3 separate regions of the Homo sapiens genome follow, and all the other regions are linked to region 3. Evidence: fine-mapped expression QTL. A gene starts in region 3. Each other region holds a variant in brackets. All regions are shown on one strand. Distances are from middle to middle. Region 1 holds the start of PITRM1-AS1 (PITRM1 antisense RNA 1). Region 2 overlaps PFKP (phosphofructokinase, platelet). Region 3 holds the start of PITRM1 (pitrilysin metallopeptidase 1).

Evidence for each region. PIP is the estimated chance that this variant, and not a neighbour inherited with it, causes the effect.
Region 1: its variant is fine-mapped to the expression of PITRM1 in whole blood (TOPMed, PIP above 0.99).
Region 2: its variant is fine-mapped to the expression of PITRM1 in skin (TwinsUK, PIP 0.95).

Annotation. Positions count from the first base shown.
Region 1 is chr10:3,141,430-3,148,613 of GRCh38, forward strand. It overlaps PITRM1 (pitrilysin metallopeptidase 1), which reads right to left. Exons shown (of 27, transcript NM_014889.4): 17 at 6,742-6,862; 18 at 6,558-6,634; 19 at 6,143-6,308; 20 at 5,721-5,821; 21 at 4,167-4,287; 22 at 2,863-2,937; 23 at 1,960-2,072. It overlaps PITRM1-AS1 (PITRM1 antisense RNA 1), which reads left to right and starts at 172. Exons shown (of 4, transcript NR_038284.1): 1 at 172-340; 2 at 1,543-1,659; 3 at 2,427-2,557; 4 at 3,542-7,184. RefSeq lists enhancers at 1-413, 414-913. The variant G/A (reference allele first, on the strand shown) is at 2,738.
Region 2 is chr10:3,132,567-3,139,798 of GRCh38, forward strand. It overlaps PFKP (phosphofructokinase, platelet), which reads left to right. Exons shown (of 22, transcript NM_002627.5): 19 at 637-748; 20 at 1,917-2,016; 21 at 3,170-3,272; 22 at 3,884-4,236. The coding sequence ends at 4,013. It overlaps PITRM1 (pitrilysin metallopeptidase 1), which reads right to left. Exons shown (of 27, transcript NM_014889.4): 25 at 6,338-6,483; 26 at 5,669-5,771; 27 at 5,162-5,558. The coding sequence ends at 5,465. SNORD142 (small nucleolar RNA, C/D box 142) reads left to right here and starts at 1,538; the gene lies at 1,538-1,732. RefSeq lists enhancers at 3,417-3,918, 3,919-4,418. The variant G/A (reference allele first, on the strand shown) is at 4,980.
Region 3 is chr10:3,168,748-3,176,205 of GRCh38, forward strand. PITRM1 (pitrilysin metallopeptidase 1) reads right to left here and starts at 4,035. Exons shown (of 27, transcript NM_014889.4): 1 at 3,970-4,035; 2 at 1,357-1,459. The coding sequence starts at 4,025. RefSeq lists enhancers at 651-700, 5,048-5,585 and silencers at 3,560-4,399, 4,690-4,849.

The DNA of each region.
Region 1 (7,184 bases), 27 kb before region 3:
AAATGAACATTTATTTAAATGTCTCACATCAGAATATGGAAAGAAAGGAAACTGAAGTGAGTTTTATAAGAATCCCTTAAGAAAACACACACTCTCTGATAAAGCACATTTCTAGGAACAGGGCCAATTTCCTCTGCCTTCCACTGTGAACGGTAACATCACATTCAAGCTGATTCTAGAACACATCCACCTCCGACAGAAGGCGGGGCAGACAATGATGGGAGGGTCTGCAGCACAGACACAGGCTCCTTGAAGACGCCCGTGGTGAGATCAGCCCCAGGTCGCCGCTTCCACAGACAGGCCTTTTCCTAAAGTGGATGAAGGGAGTCAAATAGGCCAGGTGGGAAATCAAGGAAGGAGTGGGCGTGTTCCCAGGGGCTGTGGTGGGAGAAGTCACGACCATCTCGTGTGGGTCCTCCAGGAGAAACCCAGCGCCACTCGGGTGGCTGGGGCGCCGTCAGCCGGGACTAGCGAGGCTGGAGTCAGACCCTGGGGGACGGAGTCTCCACCAGCACCGGCAGGGATGGCGTTCCATCCGTCCACACATTATCCTTCCTGAGAAATTTCTATTACTTGTATATTAAAAACATGCTCACTTTTGAAAGATTATAAAATACAAAACACAAGGAAAAAAAGATCTGGAATCCCACTGCCCAGGGGGAACCTCCACATTTTTAGTGTTTTCTGTCTACATTTTCCTGTTGGATAGTGGAAACAGACACCACTCTTCTGCCGGCATAGCAGACAGATCTGTTCATCTTCTACAAATATGGAAATAAATGAACAAAACAGCTGACCACATACTTCTACAGCCAGCTCTTTCTGGGCCCCCACTGCAGCCCCACGTTTCTTCCCGCCTGCCTCCTACACACCTCCCCATCTGTGACCCTCTGTGACACACGTGCACCTCGGAGGCCCGGCTCCTTCTCCAATCAGGACAGGCTGCCCAGGCCTAAGCCTGCCTTCCCCCTCTCTACCAGGCTCACTCCTTGGTTTAGTCCCTCATGGGGGTAGCTGCCTGGGACAAGGACACAGGAAGTGAATTTCCGGGATATAACATGTTTGCACATATCTGTGTCATACACACCCAACTGACGGGTCCCCAAAGGTGCACGTCTGTGAGTCTGTCCTGGTCTGGCCAGTTTCCCCAGATGGGATGAACACAGCCAAGGGGCAGCCAGAGTTCGGAAGAAGGGGCTGGAGGGCCAGTCTGTAGGCTGCAAACTCCCTCGCCCCACGCCACTTTGGGAACAGGCCTGACCCTGACTCTTGGCTGTGGCTTCGGCTGCTCAACCCAGGGCCTCCTTCCCTGAGCTTCTGACTTGGTGGGGAGACAGGGGAGACAAACTCCTTAGAGGGACTGTGAGGCGGCCTCCAGCCCTGCCATCTGCAGGGCTCTGCAGGACCACCTGGTTTCTCCCCACTGCCCTGTCCCTCTGTGGCCCCAGGTCAGGCACCCCCCACCCACCCAGAGTCTGGCTCACGAGGTTCTCCTGCAGCCCCCATGGCTCTCCGGGTCACCTCCCACTCTTTCCCTTGTAGCTTCGTGTCTTGATCTGCCTTTGCTGTCATTCACGCATCTGTCCTCATGAAGGCTTAACCTACCATGTTTATCAGAAATCTCAGCCTAAATTCATTCGATTTTTACCTAGAGATGAGGTGAGTACATGGGGCATGTTGAAAGCAGTCTGTGTTTAAGGTCATAGGTATCTGTATTGTTCATAGGACTCCTCAATAATAGAAATTGTTTACAAAAATGACTGGCTCTAAAACTGGGTCTCTGTTCACAAAGACTGCTGGTTAAAGAGGAGCACTCGTAGACTCACACAGCCCCAGGTCCAACACTCAGAGTCAGCACAGACTTTTCCTGTGCTAAAACACGCCCTGTGAACTCGAACAGCCTTGACAAGCTCTTCCGTAAGGCTCAGGCCTGAGAGGTCCCGACCTACACCCTCCTACCTGGCATGATCTGGGTCCGTGTAGGGGACAGTTCGGATGCATTCACCCACGTAATTCACCGGGAAGGGCATCAGGAAGTGAGTCTTCATCTGCCAGGGCTTGAAGGTGGGTTCCTGAGGGACACGGTATGGTCAGAGGCGGCTGTGCTGCCATGCACCGCCCACGGCACTGGGACTGGACCCACTCAGGGGTCAGAGGCGGCTGTGCTCCCACGCACTGCCCACGGCACTGGGACTGGAGCCATCTCAGGGGTCCCATCTCCGTGACACTCTGCAGCCAGGTGCTGGGGCGCGAGAGCAAGGCACTGCAGTTCCGTCACTCCACACAATTTCTCACTGTAAAACTGACATGAAGTCCTCCAATCTTGACGTGATGCCTTAACGTATACTGTTCAATTAAAAACATTTCATTCTACGCCGTTTATATCACAGTTACATATTTATATTTCATATCATATTATATCATAGGAATGTGTTAAATCACTCTACTCCACAAGGAACCAAACCAAACAGCATCAGCACCAGGCTGAGTCGCGGAAAGGATCTGTCAGACCGCTCCACTGGCATCGACTCAGCTCGGGAGCTACGTTCAAAGAAGGGTGAGTTGCCCGGGAGGAGACCACCCAGAGCAGTAGCCCTCTTCCTGGGCACAGGGAAGACGCACCCCATACCAGGGCCCTCCTCGGCACAGGAGGACACACCCCCACCAGGGCCTTCACTCAGTACTGTCTGAGAGAGAAAAGGCTCAGGGTGGCAGTGACAAAGGATGCACTGAACTC[G/A]CAACTCTAGGGACACGCCAGCCCCACAGACAGGCGGACGGAGGAACATTCGAACATCAGTGGCAGACACAGCCATGCAGGGAAGCACCCACCCGCTGGCAACCCGGATGGGCTGTGGTTCTTACCATGACCAGCTTCCTAATGACCTGGGAGCCATGGGGAACGTGGGCATCTCCACCAGAGCTGCTGGGCACAGGTTTCTGAAAATCAAGTTTCCAAGAGAAAAGAGAAAAATCCAGAACTCACTTGAAATATATAAGAAGTAACAGAGTTTATAAAATTCACACAGCTAATAACAAGTGTTAGGGCAGGTGTAAGTGTTTTAAATAATAAACGCTTAAAAAAAATAAAAATAGGCTGGGCAGAGTGGCTCATGCCTATAATGCCAGCACTTTGGAGGCTGAGGTGGGAGGATTGCTTGGGTCCAGGAGTCTGAGACCAGCCTGGGCAATGTAGTGAGCTCCCATCTCAACAAAAAATTTTTAAAAATTAGCTGGGCATGGTGGTGCACACCTGTAGCCCCAGCTACTTGGGAGGCTGAGATTGGAGGATCACTTGAGCCCAGGAGGTCACGGCTACAGCTAGTTGTAATGGCACCACTGCACTCCAGCCCGAGTGCCAGAGACAGACCCTGTCTCAAAATAACAAAAACTAAAAAAAGAAATAAAGTGAGTAAAAGAAATTAAGAAAATATTAAAATAAATTTTCAGACAGTCAAGGAAAAGGTAGCCTTGTTATATGGTACAAAGAAAATATTTTAACCTTTCTTTCTGCACTTTCTTGTCATTAATCTGTCAAATCAAGAGGACATTTAAGGTGAAAGGGTTGCAGGCAGAGGGGCCTGGAGCAGCAGGAGGCCACCTCCCAAAGGCTCCACTCCCAGGGGCCAACAGAGAGACCACATCCAGAATTGAACCAGGGATACGCAGACACCAACGGAGAAGACATGAGCGTCAACCTCCTCCACGGAGCAGCACGGCTTCTCTACTGACATCCATGAACTAGACTACAACTCTCTAAGTTAATCAAATTTACTAAGTTAGTTATCACCGACATCACTGTTCCATGTCAAATCCATGGATTCATGAGTCAAAGAAACAGCAGTGAACAGCCTTCAGGCTACGGTTTGGGCCATTCCTCTGCCAGCGTATTCCAGCCAAAGTCTGTTTTCCTATCAGACTACTCACTGCAAGGCACAGAAGTGAGCGCGGGATCTAAGGCCACACCGCAGGGTCTGAACTCACTTAACTGGCCCAACACTGCACAAGATACTTAATCCTCCTGAACCTCAGTTTCTTCATCTGCGTACGGGGGATATGAACCCCCACATGCTGGACTGCTCTGAGAATTGAGTTAATGCGTGTAAAACATGAGAGCTGCTCTGGCACCCACCAGGCGCTCACCGGGCGCCAGCACCACCAGTGCATACCTCGACCGTGTGTGGGCGCACAGGCCTCCGTTCCTTTTTACTCCGACCGATGCTTCTAAGGAAGTCTTCGACCGCTTTTTCTGTCTGAGGCATCTGCTGAGGAGTCGCATTCACTGAACACCTGTTTGAAAAATTATGTATACATAAAACCACTGTTAGAAAAAACAGTTTTAGTAATTCATCACATTTTGTATAACTCAATAATGTTGTTTTTATAGAAAATACTGTTCAGAGTGTTAAACAGCAGCCAAATGTGGAAATGCCACGGCCGCCTCCCTGCTCTTCAGTGCTTCAGGTTATCAAGAGATTTCCGCACAGTTCAATGTGGCAGCTAATGAAGCCGTCCATACGCGGAGCCTGTGACTCTAAACTCTAGTTCTTCTGAAGAGCAAAGAAAATACAGAGACTATTAAGATCTGCTAACCGTGCCTTCGGAATTACACTATCAAAACACTGACAACTTTTAAAATTACTGTCCAGAAGTCATCAATTTGAAAATGTGAACTGGTTGTTAAAGCAGAACATTATAAACTGCAAAAAAATACCATGCTCTCAAAGTTACATGAAAATAGAACTCTTCCAAATTCCACAGAATTGCAAATACTACTATCATATAAAAGCTACTTGAACTCTACAGTATATTGACAGAGTGTATATTTTTTCCTTTCAGCTGTAAATCCTGAACTTATTCTAGTTAAAGTAACAGCAGGTACCATTATATTAATACTAACTATATCCCAGGCATGTATGCTGCCTTGCAGATATTCTTTCTTTTATTCCTTACGATAAACCTGCAAAGGAAGGTTTTATGGAGGAGGAAGCAGAAGACGCAAGTGGGTCAGCTGCCCAGGACCGCCTGGGAGCGAGTGTGAGTGCTGACCCGGCGGCACCAGAAGCCAGGCCTGCCTGAGCCCAATGCCAAGAGACCCTGATCGCCAGGCTTCACCTCTGGCCACCCACAGACCGCCCTGTAGAATCTGCCAGGGATTCTCAGGACATGACTGGGGAAAGGCATCAGGACTCTGTGTGAAGAAGGACAAGTGACTTCAGCAAACATTTTCTTGTTAAGTACTGATGAATACATCAATGTCACTGACAATAAGATGCTGAAAATAAACAATCATTTTTAAACTTTATTCATGCTCACACATCTGAGGGCATAAGGCCAACTGAAGGTATAGGACTGAGCTGCCAGATGTTTCCTCAAAGCATCACATAATTTTATAAGAAACTGCACTTTTACTCTGGTCTTCAGCAAGCTCACCTTTACAGATACCTCAGTTACGGACCATGTGCTTTTGGAAGCAATATAACTACTTGCCCTCAATCTATTTGCACTTCTAGCACAAAATTAGCCTGCTTTCTTCCCCATCTCCTACAACTTTTAATAGGCTTAAAATATTTTCTTAGTTTGTTAGAACACTTGACATTTACAATAAATTCTATAACCTTTACCAAGCACTCTATCTTGAAGTTTCTACAAGTAAGAAATACCTAAAAACTATACTTAATAGAATGAATCATAAAATATTTAGAAACAAATCACACATGCACCTCATATTATCACCATTTAACAAGTGTTTCTTGATACGCGGGAGCTTCCTCAGGATGGGTTTGATATCTGTCATTTCTGCAATCCTCTTCATCAGCCGCACCTAAGCCAGAGGAAACTCGCTCAGAGAGAGGCAGAGGCTACAACAGACCCGCTGAGTCTGAACCAAGCACCTGTGACATCAGAACCCTGCTTGGGCAGGGGTTATGTGTGCGAGTGCACGGCTTGGGCAGGGCTGGAACTGGGATGCAGGGTGGTACAAAGAGGAAGATGAGTCAAAACCAACCAACCAATTCTTCCCCATATTTAGTCAGTTAGAAAGTTAGCATTTCTGGGACATAAATTAATGTATTCCCAAAGAAATTAGTAACTCTGGAATATGTGGCTAAACCGGAGTAATAGAGGTTCCTTCCAAGCTTCCCACCTGATCCATCCCGCTGAAGGTCTCCTGCAGGTCCCCTGCGGGCGTGAGGGTCCGGCCTGCCCTGATGGATGCGTACAGGTGCCCAGAGTCAGGAATTCCATTGGCGAGCTCCTGGGCGGTCATCTTCACCAGCACCTTGAAGTGCTCCTCTTCTTCAAAGCACGGGCTATGGAAAAAGGAGAAGAAAAAATTCCTGGAGACCCATTCCTCACGTCCCTTCAGTATCATGGAAAGTTGATTAAGTTTTCAGAGTACTTTAACAACCAAAGAAATTTTATAAGTCCATATGAACTACAAGTAAAAGTCAGACTTGGAAAACAACAACACACACGAGTAAAACTGTCTCCTTTAAAGTACTTCAAACAAAGATCTCTAGTACACCCCAAGAATGGACAACTCTTGCAAATAAAGTTACTTGTTAAATATTTCACTCCATAGCTGCATCATGTCTGGCAGGTTTCGATCCAGGCAGAGAGAGGAGAAAAGCACACCCTGAACCAAAGAAAACACAGAAGAAAGGAATTAGGGCCGAATCGAACAGTGACAGACACTGGAGAAAAGCTTCCCACCGCAGCAGTCGTCTGACGGTACCAGGCTACCTGCTCGTAGGTGTCCATGTGTGAGTCGTCGGGGAGCACGTGGGGAGAAGCACTCATCCCTCCGGTCTTCAATTCTATCTGCTGAGCCTGCTCCCGGTAGTCAAGAAGGCCGCAGCCCAGCCTGACACAGCAGAGAAGCATCGCCCCGATTACAAGTCAGTCTTTACTGAATCATTTTTAAAATCGTGCATCTTGAGTTACAAGTTGCTTCCATTAATTCAATAACTGCGGCTTTGCCAACCTCTCTACACTTCGAAGGTCATAAGCAGGTGCACTCTGGCCTTCGCCCTCGAGAGTTCATGTGCCCCCTTCCCCAGGGAGACCCCAGTTTCTCCCGCCTAGGAAGTTAGCGTCCAGAGGCACAAGACACTTGGGCAGCCAGTGTCTGCACTTAAAACACCATTCTAAAATAGGCATTTCCAGTTGTAAGCTCTTCAATAAAT
Region 2 (7,232 bases), 36 kb before region 3:
AGCAGGTGCAGAAGACAGCTGTGGTGCATTGCTCTAAAGGCTTGCCTGCATTTAGACAACTAATATTTTTGCTTTATAGTCTCTTATTCTTTGATATCTTGCAATCATTTCCCTAATTAGCACCTGATGTTTATGAAGAAAGAAGGAAATACAGTCATCCCTCTTAGCCTCAGGGACTGTGTCCCAAGACTGCAGTGGGTGTCTGAACCTGGGGATAGTACCCGCCCCCTGTATACACGAGGTTGCTTCCATCTGATAACCAAGGTGGCTACTGAGTGACTCGGGCAGGAGGCACAGACAGCATGGAGATGCAGGGCACAGGGATGATTGACGTTCTGGGTGGGACAGCAAGAGAGCACGAGATTTCATCACGCTACTCAGAATGGTGTGCAATTTAAAACTTACATATTTATTTCTGGAATTTTCCATTTAATATTTGTGGGCCTCAGTTGACCACTGGACCATGGGTAACAAACTGCAGAAAGCAAAACCGTGAACTGGAGGGACTGGTGTTGATGTAGAATCACCATAGGGTTGGGGGATGCGGGAGTCCAGCCTCCCAGGGCCATCTCCCCAAGCAGGGAGCCACGTGCCCACTGCACGCTAAACAAAGTGACTCCTTCTCGCTCGTTTCAGAAATGAGAGCTGCAGTGAAAACTACACCACCGACTTCATTTACCAGCTGTATTCAGAAGAGGGCAAAGGCGTGTTTGACTGCAGGAAGAACGTGCTGGGTCACATGCAGCAGGTAGGCCCGAGACTGCATGAGGGGCCACAAAGCCCCTGTCATGTGACTTTTAAAAGATTAGTGTCTTATTTTAGCCATTGTGGGGAAAAATGTATAAGTAAATTCCAAGATGATAAAAAACATCTGAACTTTTTGAGACAGAGTCTTGCTCTGTTGCCCAGGCTGGAGTGCAGTGGTACAAGCTTGGCTCACTGCAACCTCCACCTTCCAGGTTCAAGTGATTCTCCTGCATCAGCCTCCCGAGGAGATGGCAGTATAGGCACCCACCACCACACCCAGCTAATTTTTGTATTTTTAGTAGAGATGGGGTTTCACCACGTTGGCCAGGCTGGTCTCAAACTCCTGACCTCAGATGATTCACCCACCTCAGCCTCCCAAAGTGGTGGGAATACAGGCCTGAGCCACTGTGCCCAGCCAAAACATCTGAACTTTTAAGTGATGCCAAACATCACCAGCTTTAGGATTCTTTTGTTGGTGAGGTTTGAGTAATGGGGATTTTAAGGGAACTGTCAGCTTTCATGAAAACAGTGATACCCCCATTACTTGGAAATGCTTATTCAAATTAAACACTTCATCAAGTTAAAAACTGGAGCTTCCCTAAGATTTAAAATGGATTATCAGACATGTAGTATACTTGACACCCCAAGTCAGAATGACCTGGAATGAGCTGCACACAGGCACACACGTGTTATGAGCTGAGCCTGGGACACAGGGTCCAGGCCTCCTAACTTGCACACACTCCTTCCTCACCACCTCCTATTCTTATACTTTTAAGCCAGAGCCCATGAATCCCCTGCAATGATGATGAAATAGTAGGCATATGTGTGATCTTCTTAAAGAATCCACAACGGTTATCAGATTAAAGCTGTGACCCATCCCCAGCTCAGATGAGTTCATGAAATCCTGATTTAAGATTTTAAAATAATGAAGATTGTTAGTTGACTTGTTCGGTTTATTAAAATCCTCATCTTACTGAGCGGGGGGAACACTTGATACTTTTTCTTAACAGGCCAAGTTCAGGCTACGGGAATCACAGGTTTTGTTCTGTTCCAACTATAAGGACCTAGAAATAAAAACATGAATTCTGCAAAATAGAAATTGTCATTTCTATTTAACAGCAAAGTGTTACTGTATAACTGGTATTTCATATAACTCTAACCACCAACAGGGTGGGGCACCCTCTCCATTTGATAGAAACTTTGGAACCAAAATCTCTGCCAGAGCTATGGAGTGGATCACTGCAAAACTCAAGGAGGCCCGGGGCAGAGGTAAGGGGTCTGGGGAGGGAGGCCACAGCCTCGTGATGCAGGCCGTCCTGCCTTGGTGAAAATGCTGTCCTATCGGGGAGAAGTAGGGTGCTGGTTCCTTCTTCAGTTCAGTACTGAGCTGCACGTGATGTTTTACTCCTGATCTCTGAGTGTTGCTATTTAACCAACCTTGGATTCCTGGGATAAGATCAGCTTGGGTATGACATGTTCTCTTTTATCACTGCTAGATGCAGTCTGCAGTTCTTTTGTGCAGGCTTTTTGCTCTAGAGATCCTGAACGTTGGCCAGCAATTTCCCCTCACAGTTTAAGTGGGGCCTTCTATTTTTTGAATGTTTGCTAGGACAACCTCCTTGTGACTATCCATCAAAACTTCCAGTTTTGAGGAAGATCTGACTGCTGAATGAATTGTTCATGTTTGTAGAACTGCATGTTCGTAGAACTGTGCATGTTCTTCCTTAAATCAGTTCTGTAAGTTACATATTCTAAGAAATCTTTAAACTGAAGTTTCAAGAAACATGACTTTTTTATAATACTCTTGTTAATGGCTCCAACATGGCTGTTCCCCACTCATTCCTGAGTGGCTCTTTGTGCCAGCATCTTTCTCACCCCCACCCCCCTCAGCTTTCTTAATCAGTCATAGCAGATGTGTGCTTTTATTCCGGCAAACCACTATCACTGCCAGTGTCCAACTTAGAAAAATGACAGTCTATAAAAACCAGTGATGTGAATAGTTTCAATGGGTTTGTCTTTTTGAAGAACTGACTTTGGCTTTGATTCTTTCTACAGCGATTTTCTTTTGCTAATTTAGCTATGGATGCTTTTTGCCTCTCAGTGTGTGTATGTGTGAGCATAAATTAGTGTCCTGTAATTTAAGCTAATTTCCCTATTCCACTATTTAGTGAAAAATTCTCTCCACTGGGAGGAAAAAACAAAAGCTGCTTTCCAGGAAGCCCTCGGGGCAGTCCCACAGGAGCAGAGCTGCACGAGGCCAGGTGCTGGCCCCACTGCGCGGCTGTTCTCAGTCTCACTGGGCTTCCAGGCCGGGTTCAGCATGGTTCTGAGGAATCTCAGTTCTCATCTCGCCCCGTGATTCTGCTCCCCCACCTGCCCATGTTGACAGGGTGTTATTAATCTTTTTTAAAATCTTTTATAGGAAAAAAATTTACCACCGATGATTCCATTTGTGTGCTGGGAATAAGCAAAAGAAACGTTATTTTTCAACCTGTGGCAGAGCTGAAGAAGCAAACGGATTTTGAGTAAGTTGGCTGGGTTCCCTGAGGCAATAAGACCCCAATGTGAGTACGGGACAGGGGAATGGCCATTGCTGTTGCTGTCGGCAACTCATTCAGGGGTTTGAGGAACTGGCTTTTCTGAAGCTCAGTTAAAAAAATACTAGGTCTTGGCTGGGCGCGGTGGCTCATGCCTATAATCCCAGCACTGTGGGAGGCCGAGACAGGTGGATCACAAGGTCAAGAGATCGAGACCAACCTGGCTCATATGGTGAAACCCCATCTCTACTAAAAATACAAAAATGAGCCAGGCATGGTGATGCACACCTGTAGTCCCAGCTACTCAGGAGGCTGAGGCAGGAGAAATCGCTTGAACCCGGGAGGCAGAGGTTGCAGTGAGCTGAGATTGCACCACTGTACTCAAGCCTGGCGACAGAGCGAGACTCCACCACTGGGTCTTCGGGAATAATTTTAAACAATGGTTTCATTTGATCCTGAAATTGGCTTTATCATCTAGTTGATTCAGCCGACCCTACAAACCCTGTGTTTCTGGCAAGACCGCTCGCTGTGCTGGCCAGGCGGAGGCATCTCCCGCCAGTGACTGCAGGCCTCACTGCTGTCTCCTCTTACCTCCACAGGCACAGGATTCCCAAAGAACAGTGGTGGCTCAAGCTACGGCCCCTCATGAAAATCCTGGCCAAGTACAAGGCCAGCTATGACGTGTCGGACTCAGGCCAGCTGGAACATGTGCAGCCCTGGAGTGTCTGACCCAGTCCCGCCTGCATGTGCCTGCAGCCACCGTGGACTGTCTGTTTTTGTAACACTTAAGTTATTTTATCAGCACTTTATGCACGTATTATTGACATTAATACCTAATCGGCGAGTGCCCATCTGCCCCACCTGCTCCAGTGCGTGCTGTCTGTGGAGTGTGTCTCATGCTTTCAGATGTGCATATGAGCAGAATTAATTAAACATTTGCCTATGACTCCAACAGTCCTCTGTTTTAGTTTTTTAAGTAGGAGATTAGTACCTCAATCTATGGGTGGCTACTAAAGGTTTTCTCAGTTTTGTGGGCAAAGATTAGCAAAATATTTTTATAGGGATCACTGAACTATGCACACGTCATACAAGGAGAACAAAGCCAGGAGTTCACACAGGCCAAGGGGAAGGCCACGTTTACTCACCATTCCATATCTGCCATGTGTCAGTTTCCATCCACAGCAGCAGGCCGGGACCCTGGGCCTCGACCCCAGGCTCCTGCTCTCCTTTGAAAGTAAAACATGAATCTTAGTTACTTGTCCTCTTGATTGCAATCCTAGCTGCATGTTAAAACCACCAAGGGGTGGGTGGGGCGGAGGTGGGTTCAAAAATCTGATAGCCAGCTTCTCCTCCAGGCCAAGCCACAGTCCTCGCTGGGACCTAGGTTGGAACTCTCCGGAAGACTCCTGCCAGAGTAGACACGGCTGCTGGGATGACAGCCCTGCTGCCCTGGTGGGCCCCCCTCCTGTAGGGACAGCGTTTCTGCCTCTTAGCTCTAGTCTGCAAGAGAGAACAGCTGCGCCTCAGAAATGGGGGCAGAGAGCTGGGTGGAGGGAGAGGAGAGGCCAAAAACAAACTCTGTTTGGGAAATCAGAGTCCGACAGCCAAGAAAGAGCTAGCGCGGAGGCTTTCCTTTCTGGCTCTGTAACGATGAAGCAAGCGCTTACTCACCCCAACCCACTTGCTTCTCAGGAC[G/A]GTTTCCATGCAGCCGCCGCGGTGAACTCCCGTCTGGTGGACACTCCCCCAGGGCCTCGGTGTGATGGAGTTTCCTGAATCAGCGCAGGCAGACGTGGGACACCCTTGTGCACCTTTTCATTTTACTTCTGTTTTTAAATAAAGGCCCTAAATGCTGCTTAAAATAATGACTCAAGCAGAGGTTAAGTCAGAGTTGCCCTTTATTTTTAGATTCTTAAATATTCTAGAATGAGGTAAAACGAGCCTGCCAGTACAAAGTGAAAATTCTACATGGTGCATCTTTGGCGCTTCATGCATGATTATTTCAATGAACCTCTTCCTGGTCACTCTTAAGATAGATCTGAGTTTTTGACTCGCCAGTCAAGGGCTTTGGCGACACTCAATGACATAATATTCTTGGAAAAAGCAGTAGCATTTCTGACTTTTCATATTCAGCTCGGAGGTGTATTGTCTCGGGCTCCTGTGCAGTCGAGCGCCACGGCTGCTCATTGGATGATCCAGGATGGGTCCTTGGCAATTTTCGGGTTCTCGGGTCCGAGGATGGCCAGGCCGTGTGTGCTCTTCCCAGTGCCGAGGTATCTGAGAGGAAGGCAGGCGTGGTCAGCAAGGACTGGCTTCTGCGTGAGCGCTGTTAGAGTCAGCACGAGGGCTTCCAGTCCCAGACGCTGTCTCCCCCGCTCCCCACTCACCTATCGCTCACGGCCAGGAGCTTGTCGTGGCTGACAGCAAAGAGCTGCTCTCTGTGGGCCTGCTTCATCTCATCCGAGAGGCCGTACAAGAAGTGGTCCATTCCTAGAAGACAATCCACAGGCACGATGGAGCCGCTGCCCGGGAGCTCGCGTTGTGGGCTGTGCACTCATGTCCCGGAGGGGACACAGGCATCTCACTGTCATTTCACGTGCATGTTTCAACCACAGGGATGTGTCTAACAACCCAGAGATCACACCCCGACCTCCAGCTCCCACGTGCCACGCTGACCCCTACCCACGCCTGCTTCTGCAGCAGGGATGCAGTCAGCGCCGCGTGAGGCTGATGATGCTGTGAGCAAAAGCGGCTCCAGAGAGTAACGTGGCCATGCCCGGGCCGTGCCCACGTCCTCCTTCCACCCTAAAGAGCCCGGACACTGCCATGGGTTGGCCCCACTGGGTCTCAGGTCAGTAAAACAAATGACAGGATGCACTCTTCTCGCCCGGATGTCAGGAAGCGTGTTTAGGGTGTCAGACGTGGAAATCGTATCACAAGCAAGGATGGAGGCACCAGAAGCTAGTGCTCCTGCCCATGCATGCCGGGAACTTGGAAAACAGCAACGTCATCTGTGAGGCTGTGGGTTGAGATTCTCACTGTTATACTCAAAATACCTTTGTCTGAAGGAGCGACAGGAGCATCTACGGTTGAGAAGACAGAAAGTTTGGCTTCGTCGATGTCTTGCTGTGTGAATTTTCCAGACTTAGCCCAGTCGACAGCCTTCCCAAAAGACTGGAGCGTCTCTATTGTATTTGGGTCCCTAGGAAACCCAGAGAAATAAACGGGCAAGCATTTTACCAGTGGACAAGTTTATGACAAACCTCTGTCGACTTAACAGTTCAACATCTTCTATGGGTTAACAGCTCTATTTTATATCTGATTTAGTCCAAACAGCCCACTGACAAATCGCTCAATTACTCTCAATGGAAATTTAAATCTGATCACATAAGCCTTTCAACATGTTCTCCCTCTTAGACAAGGTCTGTCTGCACAAAGTCCTCCCTAGATTATTTAAATACACTTCTCTGTGACCTCATCAGGAGAGGAAAGTCAGTGGAGGGTAGGGGCAGGTCAGGATTACAGGGAAATTACAAAGACTTACATGGAAAAATTAAGCAAACAAAGGTTTTCCTTTCATCTCCCTGAAGACACACCCAGGGTAGTACAGGAATCAGCCTGAGGGGGCCAATCCAGACTTCCCTTCGTGTAAATGCAAAGAGCCCAGCCCTCCCTTCACCCTGAGCTGCAGAGGGGCGGCTGTGAGCTGCTTCCCCATCCTTGTCTAGAAGCATGGCTTCCAGCACAGCAAGGGGGAGAACTCATCAGAGTGGCAATGGCTACCTACGTATCTACCTACATGCCTGCCTACCTACCTAATCTAGCTATGCATCCACGGGACAGGGTCTCACTGTCGCCCAGGCTGGTGTGCAGTGGCGCAATCTGCTCACTGCAGTTTCAACCTCCCCAGGCTCAAGGGATCCTCCCGCCTTAGCCTCCTGTAGCTAGGAC
Region 3 (7,458 bases):
TGCAGAACTGTGAGTCAATTAAACCTCTTCACTTTTTAGCTCATACTTTATAAATTACCCAGTCTTGGGTATTTCTTCATAGCAGTGTGAGACTAGACTAATACACAAGCAAAAGGATTGCTTGAACCCAGGAGTTTGAGACCAGTCTAGGCAACAAAGTTTCCATCTACACACACACACACACACACACACACACACACACACACACACACACACACAATTAGCCAGGCGTGGTGGCACCTTGTCCCAGCTACTTGGCAAGAGGATCGCTTGAGCCCAGGAGTTCGAGGCTGCAGTGAGCCAAGATCATACCACCACACTCCAGCCTGGGCGACAGGGTGAGTCCCAGTCTCAAAAGTAAATACGTTTCTATAAAATTTGAGAAATAAAGGAGGAGAATCTACCGCTGTGGGTGAGGCCCTTATTAACAGTAACCTGTACCATAAACCCAAGTGTCTTTGCCTGGCCTTTGCAGGATTTCACAAACGCTCCAAGTCTTTTCATGAGTCCCATGCCTGGACCTTGTCTGGCGCACCCTAGTCACTGCCCTGGCTCCCTTGCTGGAGCCCTGACCGAAGGCAGCCACGTTCTCACACCACCCTCTCCAGGAGCTCTTCCCTCTGCCCCCAGCAGCAGCAGCTCCCACTCCTCCTCCTGCCCTTGTCCTTGGCCCTCCGCGTGGCGTCCACCATGTGCCTCCGGTCACAGCCGCAGCAGTCTTTCTAGACAGTAAGCTGTTTGTCTTTCACGTTTGCTATAACATCAAGCATAGCACAAAGCCAACAGCTGGCCAAATACATGAAGCGTGTCATTTTCAGTTACCATGCTAAATAGAAACAATGCAAAAGGTTTAGGCAAAATAACAAAACAAAAACCAAATGAATCTATTTTAATACAGACCCAAGTAAGTACAGGTCCACAATTGCTTCTTTATCATTCTGAAACCCGAATGGCTCAGAAAACTGAAAGGTTCTGCGGACGTTTAGAGCAAGCTATTTGATGGCAAAACCTGACTAAACAGATCAGGGCAGTGAGTCTTCATGCTCATGCTCAGTGAAACATCAGGTTTGGCTGCAGAAACGCTAGTGTGTCTGATTACAGAGACCCAGCTGGAAGTGTTACTCTCTAAAATCTCACAAGAACCAGGCTTTGCGGGATTCCAGGAAGGGACTGGGGCTCATTTCACTCACAAGCTCTGTTCAGCCGAGTAGCTGCCACACAGCAGGAGCTGGGCCAGGGCCTTGGGACACAAGGACAAAAACGCTAGTCTCCGCCCTGAAGGGCTCCGTACATAGGCCAGAAGCCGCACCTGCAATGTATGTGGATTTATAAGGAGGTGCCGAGGACGACCCATACCTGGTTTACGGTGAATCCATGGATCTTGTCTCCTAGTTTATACTGCAGAGCCCTCTCACAAGCCCGGTTACTGTTCCATCGCCACGCTCTGTGGTGTGCATGTCTAGATTAAAAGTCATCTAAGTTAGATGAGTTGCAGGAAAAGTATCTGGCTAACATTATTCAGCCACATAGTGAAAATACTCTCATGTAATAAAGATTATTAAAGAAAAATTAAATATTGCATCTTCCAAAGTCTTGCACATTCCAGAAAACTGATTTCTGGTAAGGTCCTTTCCATTTTAATGATCTTTATCTTAACTAAAGCTTCAATGTTGGAAACCTTTTCTTTACACTTGTTCACAAATAACTATAATACAATTACAGTTTAAATTCCCCTTGTTTAAGAGACAACTCTTAAACAAAAGGGCTTCTTTCCTTCACAGAATCCTCAAAAGCCTTCACAGTATACCAAGAAATTCACACTACAGTTAAATCCCATTACATGCCTACCGAATTGCTGAAAACTTAAAAAGCCTAATATTACCGGGAACTCTCATACACTGCTACAGGGAGTACAAAGTGGAATAACTTTGGAAAAGCACTTGGCATTCTTTAGAAAGGCTGAAGAGGCCGGGCGTGGTGGCTTACGTCTGTAATCCCAGCACTTTGGGAGGCCTGGGTGGGCGGATCACCTGAGGTCAGGAGTTCGAGACCAGCCTGGCCAAAAATTAGCCTGATGTGGTGGCAGGTGCCTGTAGTCCCAGATACTTGGGAGGCTGAGGCAGGAGAATCGCTTGAACCCGGGAAGTGGAGGCTGCAGTGGGCCGAGATCACGCCACTGCACTCCAGCCTGGGTGACAGAGCAAGACTGTCGGAAAAAAAAGAAAAAAATGCTGAAGATTGGAAATCCATTCACCTCTTGGTCTCTATCGTCCACACCTTACACTGCGGCCCCAGCACTCACAGACAAAAATGTCAGCACGAACCCTGACAGTCCCAAACTCAACTCACCCGGAGGTGTATCGACAGAGAATGGATAAAGTGCGGACTAATCGTTCAATTAAAAAAAAAAAAAAAAAAAAAAAAAAAAAAAAAAAAACCTTACCAATATAAGGGCCTACAGTGGCATGTAACAAAGATATGGGTCACATAACGTGAAACAAAAGATACACATGATACAGTATTATCCTAAACAGGTATTATTCAAATAGGTAACAAGACATTGTCAGAACGCATAAAAATGGTAAAATATTAAAAAAAAAAAAAGCAAGGACATTTCTGTATGTTATGACCGTGATAATCTAAGAGGGAGGGAGAGAGTTACGAGCAGTTAGGGGAATCTTCAACTTGGTCACAGGGACACTAATTTTCTTTTTTGAGACAGATCTCACTCTGTTGCCCAGGCTGGAGTGCAGCGGTGCAATCTCGACTCACTGCAACCTCCACCTCCCGGGTTCAAGCAATTCTGTCTCAGCCTCCTGAGTGGCTGGGACTACAAGTGCTCACTACTACGCCCAGCTAATTTTTGTATTTTTAGTAGAGACAGTTTCACCATGTCGGCCAGGCTGGTCTTGAACTCCTGACCTCAAGTGGTCTGCCCGCCTTGGCCTCCCAACATGCTGGGATTACAGGTGTGAGCCACCGCGCCCAACCTATTTCTAATAATTATTCTCACCTGAATGAGATGGCTCACACCTGTAACCCCGCAATGCGAGAGGCTGAGGAGGGGGATCAAACCAGCCTGGGAAACAGAGCAAGATCCCTGCTCTTAAAAAACACGTAATTATTATTCTCTCCAATTGTATTATATGTCGTATGGGATTTTCTACATTAATGTATCCCACCGAAATATTTATTTTAAAGATAATATGTACAGGAAGAAAAAACCTATTCAGTCACTGGCAATATTATGAAGATATGCTATAACCAACATTTGCTTACTGATTTAGCAAATTTCAGAATTATGGGACAGAAGCGTTTTAAGAAGTTACTTATCAAGGACATGATAGGAAACTCCTGAGCGGTAAGGCCAGGCCGAACTCATGCCACGGACGCCCCGTGCCTCCCGGCCTGGGCCGGCAGCGCTGAACTATTACCTTATATTAAACACGGGCTCGTGGATTACCATGAACACTAAACTGCTTCGTCATTTTTTTCCCCATAAATTGAGTCATTAAAAAAACAAAACAGTTCAATTCCGGGAGGCGTCAGTTCTCTGAACACAGCGAGACTTTAAGTATGGGCTGTGGGCGCCTCGGGTCTCTTAAGGACTCGGCCTCCCAACAAAAATGAACTAGGAGCAAAGCTGTCAGCGAGAACCGCAAATGCCGACCCCATTTACTACCCCCGTTAAAGCCCACGCTAATGGAGGGCCCCGCCGGGAGCGCCGCGGGCAGGCCCGGCCCCCAGCCCGGGGCATCGCCCCTGGGAGTAGGAAGGAGCTCCGAGGTCCTCCGGCCTCGGAGCCTCGGATGCGGGAGCTCCAGGAAGGGCTCGGGGTGCGGGACGCCCACAGCTTGGGGAGCTGCCAGCCCCGGGCGCAGGGACGAGGACCCCTACGCCTCCGGCCTGCCCTGGACCCTCCCCTCCCGGGTACCAGCGCGCCGAGCGCCTCCCGTCGCAGCGTCTCACCCGCCGCTCAGCCGCCTCAGCACACACAGGCCCTGCCGCCCGCCGCAGCGCCACATTGCGCATGACGAGCACCTGGCTGGCGAGGAACCCCCTCTTAACCCGACGCAGGGCGCGGGGCGGGGCTTGCCGTGACAGCTACCACTCCTATTGGTCAACGCGAACAGCGACGTCCTCTGCGATAGGCTGTAGGTGAAAAGGGTAGGCCTCCACTGCTCTGGGACGGGCGGGAGGGCGGTGCGGACGGAGATGGGCGGGAGGGGCGGGGCCGACGTGCCGAAGGAGGCGGGCAAGGCGAGGGGCGTGGTACGGGTAGAAAGGGGCGGGGCCGTCTTGCCGAAAGGGGCGGGGTTCGGCCAGCAGCAGGATGTGGACAGATGATAGGAGGGGGAAGTGGGCAGGCGAGAAGTGGGGCGTGGCGAGAGGCGTGTGTATGCAGATGAAGTGGGGCCTGGTGAAGGGCGGGGCTGCGCTGGTGAAAAGAGGGGCTCCTGGAATGGCGTGCTGTGTTGGGTGGGGCTGTGCAAGTGATGGGAGGGGCTTAGCGAGGGGTGGCTCTTTGCAGGTGAGGAGTGGAGACCAGTGGGAGAGGGGATTGCAAGTGAGCTGAGCCTTGGGGGCGGGGCTTGCAGGTGACAGGGTGGAGCCTAGTGGGCGGGGATGCAAGTGAGCTGGGCCTTGGGGATGGGGCTTGCAGGCGATGGGGTGGAGCCTGGTGGGGCGGGGCTGCAGGTGAGCTGGGCCTTGGGGGCGGGGCTTGCATGCGAGAGGTGGGTCCTTGTGGGGGCAGGGCTGGCAGAAGTGGGTGGGGCTTGGTGATGGACCGCGGTGTTCAGGTGAGGGTAGTGGCCTGGTTGGGGGCTGCCGGAAGCTGGGCCAGGTGAAACTTGGTAGCCCTCTCTGGCCTTGGTGTGGGCGTTGGTCCTGTTTGTAGGGCTGAGCTGAGCTCCAAAGGCGTTCTGCTGCCCCGCCAGGCCTGAACCTTGGGGTCTGGGGGCTTCTTGGATGAGATCTCAAGGCTGCATGGCAGGTCCCAGGGCCAGGGCCCCACGGTGTCACACGTATCACGGATGGCCGCCAGCGAAGCACAGCACAGCTCCGAGCTGCTGCATGGGAGCCTGTGGCCCCCGCTGCTGCCTCCGCTTTCCTCTTCGTTTCGTGTCTAGGAAGATGCACCTGAGCCCCCTGACATTGCCCAAGTGCCCAAGGGCCCTTCTGGGAACCCCCAGAGAGGCTGAAGGAGGCCCCCGTAGGAGTGGGTGGTTCTGCACTGTGGGCCAGAAGGGGCCCTGGGATTAGCCACGCTTGGAGAGGGTGGGGTAGCCCTTGGAGGAAGTCCGCACCAAGTCTGACCTTCCGGGTTTCTCAGAGCCTCTCTTCCTTCCTCCCTTCACCTTCTCCCTCTTTTTTTCCCCTTGTATCACGAATACAAACAGGCTCAAATCTCCCTCTGTCTCCTAATGGGCTCTGAAAAAAAAAATTAAAAATTAAATGGTAAGTAGATGGCTGCAGTCGGCTTGAACAAGCTAAAACTTTGGAAGCAATGTGGAAGGTAATACTGTGGGAAAAAGTCCCAACGTGTCTACCCTAAACTCTCCATAGGGCAGCCAGTTCTGGGCTGCAGGTAAACACGTACCTCCTTATTGAAGAGCCCAAAGGAACCAGAACACAGGCAATAATAGGAGCGACAGACACAAACACGCTCTGCGCATCACCCGTCTTCTAGGGAGAATTTGGGTGTGTGCACACAAAATATCCGATCTAGGTCTCAATCAATTTAGAAAGTTAATTTTGCCAAGGTTAAGGGCATGCCCATGACACAGCCCCAGGAGGTCCAGATGACATGTGGCCAACATGGTCGTGGCACAACTTTTTTTTTTTTTTTTTTTTAATACCGTGTCTCACTCTGTCGCCCTGGCTGGATTGCAGTGGCGCAATCTTGGCTCAGTGCAACCTCAGCCTCCCGGGCTCAAGCGAGTCTCCTGCTTCAGCTTCCCGAGTAGCTGGGATTACAGGCACCCACCACTATGCCCAGCTAATTTTTTTTTTTTTTGTATTTTTAGTAGAGACGGGGTTTCACCATATTGGTCAGGCTGGTCTCGAACTCCTGACCTCGTGATTTGCCCGCCTCCGCCTCCCAAAGTATTGGGATTACAGGCGTGAGCCACCGCGCCTGGCCACAACTTGCTTTTATACATTTTAGGGAGATATGAGACATCCACCAATATATGTAAAATGTAGATTGGTTGGGTCCGAAATGGCAGGGCAACTCCAAGTGGGGGCTTCCAGGTTGTAGGTAGATAAGAAGGAAATGGTTGCATTATTTTGAGTCTCTGATTAGACTTTCACTGAACACACAACTTATATTTGAGAGGAGGGTAGAGAAGCAGTCACTGATGCCTTAGTCTGACTCAGTGAAACAATGGGGCAGAGGAAGTGATCAGATATGCGTTTGTCTCACCCGTGAGCCTCAGGAGGATGACTTTGAGTTCTGCCTGTCCTTGGTCCACAAGGAATTTCCTTGTGGACAAATTGTGAGAAAAGTATGTGGCTTTTTAAAATCCTTATAGCTGTCTTACTTAGAAATAAAATGGGAGGCAGGTTTCACAGTTCCCAGCTTGATTTTTCCCTTTAGCTTACTGATTTGGGTTCCCGAGATATTATTTTCCTTTCATGGGTCATACATATTAATAGGTCATCATAACATCTCTGATCTTGGGGGAGACAGTTGGGTATCATTAACCCTATTGTGAGTGGCCAGGAAAATGAAACACTGGAAGGTTATAGTGTTTTTATTTCTTTGAAAATAGATGCTGTGTAAGTCTAATAATTAAGGCTTCAGAGTGTGTTCCCATAGCATTCAAATGTCACTGATGGATAACCTAGATAAACAAATGCCCAAACATTTACAAATAATTATTTCGAATAGCATTCAACCTAATGTTAACACCTACAGGTAGTCTCAGTTTATATTAACACAAATGACTCCAACACAGAAATTAAAAATCCGAACTTGTCTATGCAATTTGCTATGTTACAAAAACATATCCTATGTTATAGTGAAATTCATTGTTTTAGCGAAATTAGAAAGCAATTTAAAAAAAAATCAGAATAGATTGTGACTGGAACTTAGAAGGGCAATCAAGTGAATATTAAGTATTAAAGGTTTAATTGTGTCTACTCAAAAAGATATGTTGGGGTCCTAACCCCCAGTATCTCAGAGTGTGACTTTGTTTGGAGATGGTCTTTACAGAAATAATTAAGCTAAAATGACATCATTGGGTGGGCCTAACTCCAGGATGGTTCATGTCCTTATAAAAAGGGAAAATTTGGATGCAGAGACAGACATGCACACACACGGAAAATGCCAGGTGAAGATAAAGGCAAATATTGGGGGTGAAACCTTTACAAGCCAAGGAATGCTAAGGGTCACCAGCCAATAACCATAACTTCAGGATGCAGCATGGAACAGACTCAGCCTTCAAGCTCAGA